Regions from separate parts of the Homo sapiens genome. Here region 1 is reported to be linked to region 2. Evidence: microRNA targets listed by miRTarBase, many of them from high-throughput screens and not tested one by one. Region 2 holds a microRNA gene; the other region holds the end of a gene's coding sequence.

Region 1 (5,000 bases), not on the chromosome of region 2:
GAGACTTTCTTCTGGATAGCACTTATTTAATAAAGTGAGGAATCCCAAAAGTCACATCCCATATTCCTATCCTAATATCCACAATGAAATCCCAGTTTTTCAATAGGTCTGCGTTGGATCTTTCATACACTCTTCTTAAAACAAAGCTGTCAACCCCACATCACAATGCTTCTATATATAATGACTTTACATTAAAAGAATAGAAGCCAGCTATTTTTAGAAAATGCAGGTGCCATGTAAGCCCCTTTCTGCAAGAATGATCTTAGCTCAGTTTCCTTGGAATAACTGTAGACTTGAAACTGAAAACTTTATTAATGCCATTGTCTCCTTGTATCAGCAGGTTCCAGAGAGATTCCTGGAAGTTGCTCAGATCACATTACGGGAGTTTTTCAATGCCATTATCGCAGGCAAAGATGTTGATCCTTCCTGGAAGAAGGCCATATACAAGGTCATCTGCAAGCTGGATAGTGAAGTCCCTGAGATTTTCAAATCCCCGAACTGCCTACAAGAGCTGCTTCATGAGTAGAAATTTCAACAACTCTTTTTGAATGTATGAAGAGTAGCAGTCCCCTTTGGATGTCCAAGTTATATGTGTCTAGATTTTGATTTCATATATATGTGTATGGGAGGCATGGATATGTTATGAAATCAGCTGGTAATTCCTCCTCATCACGTTTCTCTCATTTTCTTTTGTTTTCCATTGCAAGGGGATGGTTGTTTTCTTTCTGCCTTTAGTTTGCTTTTGCCCAAGGCCCTTAACATTTGGACACTTAAAATAGGGTTAATTTTCAGGGAAAAAGAATGTTGGCGTGTGTAAAGTCTCTATTAGCAATGAAGGGAATTTGTTAACGATGCATCCACTTGATTGATGACTTATTGCAAATGGCGGTTGGCTGAGGAAAACCCATGACACAGCACAACTCTACAGACAGTGATGTGTCTCTTGTTTCTACTGCTAAGAAGGTCTGAAAATTTAATGAAACCACTTCATACATTTAAGTATTTTGTTTGGTTTGAACTCAATCAGTAGCTTTTCCTTACATGTTTAAAAATAATTCCAATGACAGATGAGCAGCTCACTTTTCCAAAGTACCCCAAAAGGCCAAATTAAAAAAGAAAAATAATCACTCTCAAGCCTTGTCTAAGAAAAGAGGCAAACTCTGAAAGTCGTACCAGTTTCTTCTGGAGGCAAAGCAATTTTGCACAAAACCAGCTCTCTCAAGATGAGACTAGAAATTCATACCTGGTCTTGTAGCCACCTCTCTAAACTTGAAAATAGGTTCTTCTTCATAAGTGAGCTTACATCATTCTTCATAAAGAAAAATCCTATAACTTGTTATCATTTTTGCTTCAGATACTAAAAGGCACTAAGTTTCCAATTTACGCTGCTCAACTTTGTTTATATGCTTAAAAGGATTCTGTTTACTTAACAATTTTTTCCCCTAAAATACTATTTTCTGAATACTTCCTTCCAGTAAGGAATAAAGGAAAGCCCAACTTGGCCATAAAATTCTTGCCTACACTAGAAGTTTGTTGACAGCCATTAGCTGACTTGATCGTCATCTCCTAAGAGGAACACATATATTTTCACAAGCAATTCCACACTATCCTGATGGGTATGCAAAGTGGTGACAGTCTAACTCAGTGTTTCTTCATTTTAGGTATAACATTTTAAAGCAATTGATAATGCCTCTTCCAATTCAGAAGCTAGTATTGACCAAAATGTGAGAAGAGTGTATAGCATAGGAAAATTTGGGGTTAACCCAAAAGACACAATTCCAGCACACATAAGAAAGCTAGCTGCTATTTTATGCTTTCTTCCATGGTTCTCCTCTTTTTTCCCTTTTATTTTTCCCTGTTTTTCAATGATGTACAGTGTTCCCTACTTGCATTGAAAAAACTCGTATGGCATTCACACTTTTTTTCTTAGGTGGGTTTTTGTGTCCAGATGCAGTAAGAATTCATTGTTCATCCTAAAACTGTTTTCCAGACCCTTCCTTCCCCTTAGGTAATTTGATATACACCTCCTAAAATGACACAGTAACAAATCTGGTATTTAGAACATATAGAACATAAATGCCATTTTTTAATTCAACTTTAATAAGAATTACATTTGACTTTGGAGAATACAGGTCTTGACCCATGTGACTGACTAGCTGACCCGATCGCTGTAATTTAACGTCATTTATAAATTCTGCTGATGGACAGGAATGTATGAACTCAATTATTGTCAGCACAAAGCCTTAAAACCTGCTGACTTTAAATTAAATGGTGCAGTCCTATGATGCCCTGCACCATCCAGGGGACTAACAGGGCCTCGCAGTGTAGACAGAGGGTGCAGCCACACGGGCGGGGGCACCAGCCACCTCACTCTGCACCCGCGGCCTCACACATCTCCCAGCTCACACTCTACTAATGCACAGAGTCATTAGATCCAATTTGTTATTTTTCTCACTTGCTTTAAAAAAAAGCAGTTTGGATAATCATGACATTGGAATAAAGTGGGAAGGAAAAATTCCATCAGCACAAAATAGGGAAGTAATCCCAACTTGTAGTCACAGTTTTCTGACTGGCTTTGTTTTAAAAGAGGATGGCAGTCCTTGTTCGTGTCAGTGTGCCACTGGGTTTTTGCTGTTCCGTGTAATTCATATCAACTTTGTGTTGCCATTTGCAAGGTAAAAGGCAAAGCTGTAGTGTATTCACCTATGTAGACAGATTGCTAGATATCTTTTTGATCTGGGGCGAGTTCAATATTGATTCCAGACTTATTTGGATTTTTTTAGTATTATTTTCCCCTCCCTTTCTAATTTAAATAGACAAATTAAGCAAAAGTGTGTGTTCACAACCAAATGTTGATGCCCTTATCTACTGATAATATCCTCTCAATGTTCACTGAGGCATAGAAATTATTTCAGAGTAGAAATTGCAGCATGAGGATAAACTCACCTCTTTGTTCTGAAAATAGAACTTTATCACTATGCTTTCCGGTGGTTTTCCCTTTTACAATCGAAATCTTGTGCCTCCCAAGTGCATTGGAAAATGACAAAAGCCTGTCTCTCCAAATTCCTATTTAACAGTTTGATTTTTTTTTTTTAATCACCATCTTTCAAATCTTAGCTCAACTCTCACCAAGTGAAAATTGGCTACTTGGGAGAAAGTTAACTTTCTATGGTGGGATGGTGAAGGATGAGGGACAGTTTACATAGGAAAAGAAAAAAAAAAGTCTAAAGTCCATGTTGAAAAACCACACTACCACTTATTTTCTGCTAACCCTAAATTATTTTTGCGTATACGCTTGAGGTTATAGTCTGTGCCTAGACCTAAAATGCACCAGCGGGGGGGATTTTAAAAAATCCTTCAAAATACCAGTTTTTTCCCAACAAGTACAATTGTTCTTGTGCCTTCTGTGGCTTTCGATTTCATCTTTTTGACTTTATTTCCAATTACTACAGCTGCAATAAACACTAGATTTTTTTTCTGGCTGTTTGACATAACGTTGATAGCTATGCATATTTTGTGTCTTTTTAAAACAAAGCGGGAGAATACGTTTTTGAAGAAGAGAATTTTTAGAACAGTTTGATACCGCAAATTATTTTTTCCTCAATTGTTTGAGCAGCATTCGAGTTTTGAAAATTCTTGTAGAAGCCAATTTTTTGTAACTGTGGTGCAAATCTTGTGTTTTCTTAGCCTAATGAAAAGTAGTATAGAAGCAATATTTCATACCATGTGCTATATATGTGTGCGCAGATGTGTGAACATAAAATCACATACACACATATACACACATGTAAAAATATACATATATATATATGCGTGTGAAGTGGAAAGCTTACCTTTTCCTATCTAGATTTAAGAACCTATTTTAGACATTTGTTATGTTTTGTGAAAAGAATGTTCTATTTGCAACAAAACATTTAATTCTTACTGTATCTCTGGCTGTTTAATGAGGACGTTTCACATTAAATGGTAAAACACATGGAAGATGTTAGAATGTAGTAATTATTTAAGTAAACGTTCACCCACATATTCCTGAAGTTTGCTTTGTGCCTCCGAGTATTATTTAATTAAAGAAGTGTTTTATGTTTGCAGAATCTTTGTCACTGTACTAGGGATGTGGGTGAATATCATTTAAAAAAATTTAAAACAACAAAAAAAAAGCAAAACAGAAACACTAAAGCAAGAGGGGAACTTTTATAAAGCAATGTAAATATTTAACCTCATGGCTGTCATTATGTAAGACATGAGATTTTAATAAATAACTACATTCTCACGACATCTGTTGAATTTACTAGGAACACTACAGTGACTGTATAGACAGTTGAAAGCATTCTTGAAAATCCTGCTCTCTCCTTTTAAAAGTTAACAATCTCTTTTATCAGATGTCAAGGGCAAGGGTAATGCAGTTTCTGTAAATTTATGAAATTTCTTTTTCTATGTACATGAAGACATTTAGTAAGTAACACCCCCCCTTCCCATGCGCACATGTGCGCATACACACACACACACACACACACACACACACAAACACACACACTGTCATAAAGCTAATGATTTGGGGACTTTAAAAAATAGGATGTCCTCCAGGAACAATCATAAATTTATGAAAGAAAGAGTAGTTTACAGACTCCCCTGAAAGAAGCAGTGTATATGTGAAGACAGTGCAAAAATCTCTTTGCCATGTATATTATAGCGTATTCATTGGTGTGAATAGTACAAATGTTTCCTTCTGGTACAAACTCTGTGTTTGCAAATTTACAAGAAGCATTGTTTTCAAAAAGCTCCCCTTAAAAAATGTAACTGGTTTATATGAGTAAGCAGTTACCGTATTGCACTTAAATGTTATGTTGAAGGAAATGCAGTTTTGTTTTCTGTAGATCTGTTGGTTGTAAACCATCTATAAAACTAAAGCTAAAATGCTCATATTCAGAGCTGGGATCAAAACTGGTATTTAACCTTTGCATCTTCTTATAATTATCCTTCTAAGAATATAACAGAATGTG
Region 2 (5,521 bases):
TCCACTCCACTCCCAACCGTGGTGCCCCACGCGGGCCTGGGAGAGTCTGTGAGGCCGCCCACCGCTTGTCAGTAGAGTGCGCCCGCGAGCCGTAAGCACAGCCCGGCAACATGCGGTCTTCAGACAGGAAAGTGGCCGCGAATGGGACCGGGGTGCCCAGCGGCTGTGGGGACTCTGTCCTGCGGAAACCGCGGTGACCAGCACAAGCTCGGTCAACTGGATGGGAATCGGCCTGGGGGGCTGGCACCGCGCCCACCAGGGGGTTTGCGGCACTTCCCTCTGCCCCTCAGCACCCCACCCCTACTCTCCAGGAACGTGAGGTCTGAGCCGTGATGGTGGCAGGAAGGGGCCCTCTGTGCCATCCGAGTCCCCAGGGACCCGCAGCTGGCCCCCAGCCATGTGCAAAGTATGTGCAGGGCGCTGGCAGGCAGGGAGCAGCAGGCATGGTGTCCCCTGAGGGGAGACAGTGGTCTGGGAGGGAGAAGTCCTGGACCCTGAGGGAGGTGATGGGGCAATGCTCAGCCCTGTCTCCGGATGCCAAAGGAGGGGTGCGGGGAGGCCGTCTTTGGAGAATTCCAGGATGGGTGCTGGGTGAGAGAGACGTGTGCTGGAACTGTCCAGGGCGGAGGTGGGCCCTGCGGGGGCCCTCGGGAGGGCCCTGCTCTGATTGGCCGGCAGGGCAGGGGCGGGAATTCTGGGCGGGGCCACCCCAGTTAGAAAAAGCCCGGGCTAGGACCGAGGAGCAGGGTGAGGGAGGGGGTGGGATGGGTGGGGGGTAACGGGGGAAACTGGGGAAGTGGGGAACCGAGGGGCAACCAGGGGAAGATGGGGTGCTGGAGGAGAGCTTGTGGGAGCCAAGGAGCACCTTGGACATCTGGAGTCTGGCAGGAGTGATGACGGGTGGAGGGGCTAGCTCGAGGCAGGGCTGGTGGGGCCTGAGGCCAGTGAGGAGTGTGGAGTAGGCGCCCAGGCATCGTGCAGACAGGGCGACATCAGCTGGGGACGATGGGCCTGAGCTAGGGCTGGAAAGAAGGGGGAGCCAGGCATTCATCCCGGTCACTTTTGGTTACAGGACGTGGCAGCTGGTTGGACGAGGGGAGCTGGTGGGCAGGGTTTGATCCCAGGGCCTGGGCAACGGAGGTGTAGCTGGCAGCAGCGGGCAGGTGAGGACCCCATCTGCCGGGCAGGTGAGTCCCTTCCCTCCCCAGGCCTCGCTTCCCCAGCCTTCTGAAAGAAGGAGGTTTAGGGGATCGAGGGCTGGCGGGGAGAAGCAGACACCCTCCCAGCAGAGGGGCAGGATGGGGGCAGGAGAGTTAGCAAAGGTGACATCTTCTCGGGGGGAGCCGAGACTGCGCAAGGCTGGGGGGTTATGGGCCCGTTCCAGGCAGAAAGAGCAAGAGGGCAGGGAGGGAGCACAGGGGTGGCCAGCGTAGGGTCCAGCACGTGGGGTGGTACCCCAGGCCTGGGTCAGACAGGGACATGGCAGGGGACACAGGACAGAGGGGTCCCCAGCTGCCACCTCACCCACCGCAATTCATTTAGTAGCAGGCACAGGGGCAGCTCCGGCACGGCTTTCTCAGGCCTATGCCGGAGCCTCGAGGGCTGGAGAGCGGGAAGACAGGCAGTGCTCGGGGAGTTGCAGCAGGACGTCACCAGGAGGGCGAAGCGGCCACGGGAGGGGGGCCCCGGGACATTGCGCAGCAAGGAGGCTGCAGGGGCTCGGCCTGCGGGCGCCGGTCCCACGAGGCACTGCGGCCCAGGGTCTGGTGCGGAGAGGGCCCACAGTGGACTTGGTGACGCTGTATGCCCTCACCGCTCAGCCCCTGGGGCTGGCTTGGCAGACAGTACAGCATCCAGGGGAGTCAAGGGCATGGGGCGAGACCAGACTAGGCGAGGCGGGCGGGGCGGAGTGAATGAGCTCTCAGGAGGGAGGATGGTGCAGGCAGGGGTGAGGAGCGCAGCGGGCGGCGAGCGGGAGGCACTGGCCTCCAGAGCCCGTGGCCAAGGCGGGCCTCGCGGGCGGCGACGGAGCCGGGATCGGTGCCTCAGCGTTCGGGCTGGAGACGAGGGTGAGTTTTTCCCCCTCTGCCACCCTCAGCCCCCACCCGCCCCTCCCCACACAACCAACACGTTCTCCCCACACGACTCTCTCGTTCTCCCCACAGCCAGGTCTCCAGCTGGGGTGGACGTGCCCACCAGCTGCCGAAGGCCAAGACGCCAGGTCCGGTGGACGTGACAAGCAGGACATGACATGGTCCGGTGTGACGGCGAGGACAGAGGAGGCGCGTCCGGCCTTCCTGGTGAGCGTGTCTGCCCTCCCTGCGTCAGGACGCGGCCCTGCCCAGACCGCCCCGCCGGGCCACCATCTCACTGCCCCGACCTCTGTCTTCTACAGAACACCTTAGGCTGGTGGGGCTGCGGCAAGAAGCGGGTCTGTTTCTTTACTTCCTCCACGGAGTCGGCACACTATGGCTGCCCTCTGGGCTCCCAGAACCCACAACATGAAAGGTGAGGGGCTTCCTGCCACACTTGGGGTGGGGGGCACGCGAGAGGAGCTGAGTGGGACCTCACTCCTTCCCCATCCACAGAAATGGTGCTACCCAGCTCAAGCCTGGGCCTTTGAATCCGGACACAAAACCCTCTAGCTTGGAAATGAATATGCTGCACTTTACAACCACTGCACTACCTGACTCAGGAATCGGCTCTGGAAGGTGAGCACCAGCGCTCCTTCCGGAAGCCTCCAGGCCCCCGAGCACCCTGCCCCCATCCCACCCACGTGTCGCTATCTCTAGGTGAAGCTAGAGGAACCAGACCTCATCAGCCCAACATCAAAGACACCATCGGAACAGCAGCGCCCGCAGCACCCACCCCGCACCGGCGACTCCATCTTCATGGCCACCCCCTGCGGCGGACGGTTGACCACCAGCCACCACATCATCCCAGAGCTGAGCTCCTCCAGCGGGATGACGCCGTCCCCACCACCTCCCTCTTCTTCTTTTTCATCCTTCTGTCTCTTTGTTTCTGAGCTTTCCTGTCTTTCCTTTTTTCTGAGAGATTCAAAGCCTCCACGACTCTGTTTCCCCCGTCCCTTCTGAATTTAATTTGCACTAAGTCATTTGCACTGGTTGGAGTTGTGGAGACGGCCTTGAGTCTCAGTACGAGTGTGCGTGAGTGTGAGCCACCTTGGCAAGTGCCTGTGCAGGGCCCGGCCGCCCTCCATCTGGGCCGGGTGACTGGGCGCCGGCTGTGTGCCCGAGGCCTCACCCTGCCCTCGCCTAGTCTGGAAGCTCCGACCGACATCACGGAGCAGCCTTCAAGCATTCCATTACGCCCCATCTCGCTCTGTGCCCCTCCCCACCAGGGCTTCAGCAGGAGCCCTGGACTCATCATCAATAAACACTGTTACAGCAATTTGTCTCGAGGACTCTGGAATCCGGGCTGTGGGCATGATGTGGGGGAGGCCAGCCTTGGGCAGAGGGGGGCTGGGGGGCATGGGGAGGAGTACATGAAAAGGGGGATGGGGGTTCCAGGGTGGGGGATTCTGGGATGGGTGCAGCGCAGCACACACCAGGGGTGGGGTGAGCACAGGGTGTGTGGACCTCAGGGGTGCAGGGCAGGCGGTCAGCATGCAGTGATGGCAGTGGAGGGGCTGTGGGACCAGGGGCTTCACAGACTGGGCGGGGGCTGGGCTTGCGGAGGGGGCCTGCGCTCTGAGGCAGGGGTCGGGGACCACCAAACCATCCCCGAGCGAGTGCCTCCTGTCGCCCCAAAGTCCCATCAGAATGACGCCTTGGTGCTGGCCCCAGACCCCTGAAGCCCGGGCTAGGTGACTGGGGTAGAGCTGGCCATGGCCGCTCTGGGAGGCCCACAAGGTGCTCTGGGCGACCCCACCCCGACAGGGGCACGAACCCCGCGCCAGTCCCGTTCCTGCTCCCCTTTTGCTGTGGGTGGGAGCCGGGGCCACGCCGGAGGGACGGCCCCGCACAAGGAGCCAGGGGGTTGTGGGGGAGCCGGTGGGCTTCTCAGTGGGCAGGTGGCCTTGGGGCAGAGGTCCTAAGGAGGCCAGGGGACCAGGAGGAGGGAGGAAGAAGTTGAGGGTGGCCACAGGGAGGAGGTGAGGAGGAGCGGGAGGGCCCAGGGTGAGGGGCTCCCGGGCTCCCTCCCCGGGGTCTTGCTGCTGGAGCTCCAAGAACCCCGGTATGCAGGGGTTCGCTCCCCAGGTGCCAAGGCAGCCCACTCATGGGTTCCGGGTCAGCTTCCCCGCAGAGGCCAGTGGCCGGCAGCTCCCTCAGCCAGGCCTCCCAGCTCCCGGCCCCTCGCTGTGCAGGCGCTGGGAACACAAGGGGCAGCCCCTGGAAATAAGGGTGGGGTCCCGGCCTCCCCATTCCTTCCCCCCTCCCCCCTGCCTTCCACCCCCATTCCCAGTGCACAGAGCTGTCAGGAAAATTCCTCCCCGACTGACAAAGAACAGACAGGAAGGCGGTTAGGGACGCCCCTCCCCTACCGGCCCAGCCGCCCTTGGGGTCTTGGTGTCCAGGGCGGAAGAGCAGGGTGGTTCCCCACGTCCCTTGGGTCTGGCCTCCCCTCTGCACCCTCTCTTGCCCCCTCCCCATCCAGCTGTGGGCCCTGGGGACTGTCAGAGACCGAGGGGTTTCCAGGGACACACTTGTGTGCTAAAACCTGGGCGGGTGGTCACCCCCCAGGATGCATGTAGACATCCGGTGAGGGAGTCTCTTGAAGTCTCTGGGATGGTGCCCCTGGGACTGGCTGCCATCTCATGGAGGAGGTCAGAGGTCGCTGGGGCCAGCCCAGGGTGAGGCCGCATTCATCTTCCTGACCCTACAGGCCAATTTGACTTACCCAAGTGGGTTTTGGCCGGCAGGATGAAGTAACCCATCCATTACATGTCAAGAGTTAGGTCTATAAACGGCCTTTATTATAAACATCCAACTCTGCAGGAGGTTTACAAAGCAGGGCTCAGGAGATAAAAGCCGGCTTCCCCAGGTGGCGGCTGCAGGGTGCGGCAGGCAGCCCCAGGGGTGCCCAGGGTGGCGGGGCAGGGGAACCGTAGGGAGGGGGAGAGGGGCACCCAGAAAACCTCTCCTGGAGAACATGGAAGACTCTGCCCACTTCAAATCCCTGCCTGGGGAAGGACACATGGGAATGGGGCCGGGGGAAAAGGCGGGCCACCTCGGGCCTTCGTCACCTGTGTCAGCTCCTAGGGATTGTCTCCTCCTGGTCACTTGGAGAGAACAGGCGTGCTGGACACGTCCACATCTCTGGGCCCGGGGTGTATGAATGACACGCTTGCTCTGGAGTTTCCACCTGGGAGCTGTATGGGGACAGGGCTGTTCCTCCTCACACCCGCTGGGGAAGGGACACAGGCCTCTTGGTGGCCCCCACCATCTCCCAGCACTGCCCATGGCTGTGCCCACGCTGGCTGCCCCCTGAGAGCAGGACGTGTACTCAGGGGCAGCGCCTACCTCTGGGCAGCCCAGGTTTCTCTGCTCCCTGCAGCGGA

The links. The annotated mature microRNA hsa-miR-675-3p reads CUGUAUGCCCUCACCGCUCA and lies in region 2 at 1,800-1,819, shown strand. An mRNA with a match to its seed (bases 2 to 7 or 8) in the 3' UTR can be bound and repressed. Matches are read on the target gene's strand: a 7mer-m8 pairs with bases 2 to 8, a 7mer-A1 pairs with bases 2 to 7 and ends in A, and an 8mer does both.
Region 1: the mRNA of PROX1 is a reported target of hsa-miR-675-3p. Seed matches in the 3' UTR shown: 7mer-m8 at 4,489-4,495.

Annotation. Positions count from the first base shown.
Region 1 is chr1:214,035,309-214,040,308 of GRCh38, forward strand. PROX1 (prospero homeobox 1) reads left to right here. Exons shown (of 5, transcript NM_001270616.2): 5 at 341-5,000. The coding sequence ends at 526. Among named protein-coding and RNA genes, the nearest start is that of PROX1, 50 kb to the left of the region's middle.
Region 2 is chr11:1,993,066-1,998,586 of GRCh38, reverse strand. MIR675 (microRNA 675) reads left to right here and starts at 1,756; the gene lies at 1,756-1,828. It overlaps LINC01219 (long intergenic non-protein coding RNA 1219), which reads right to left. Exons shown (of 3, transcript NR_126400.1): 3 at 5,118-5,332. It overlaps H19 (H19 imprinted maternally expressed transcript), which reads left to right and starts at 745. Exons shown (of 5, transcript NR_002196.3): 1 at 745-2,069; 2 at 2,166-2,300; 3 at 2,396-2,508; 4 at 2,589-2,711; 5 at 2,793-3,411. It also overlaps a transcript of MRPL23 not described here. RefSeq lists enhancers at 1-385, 386-1,233.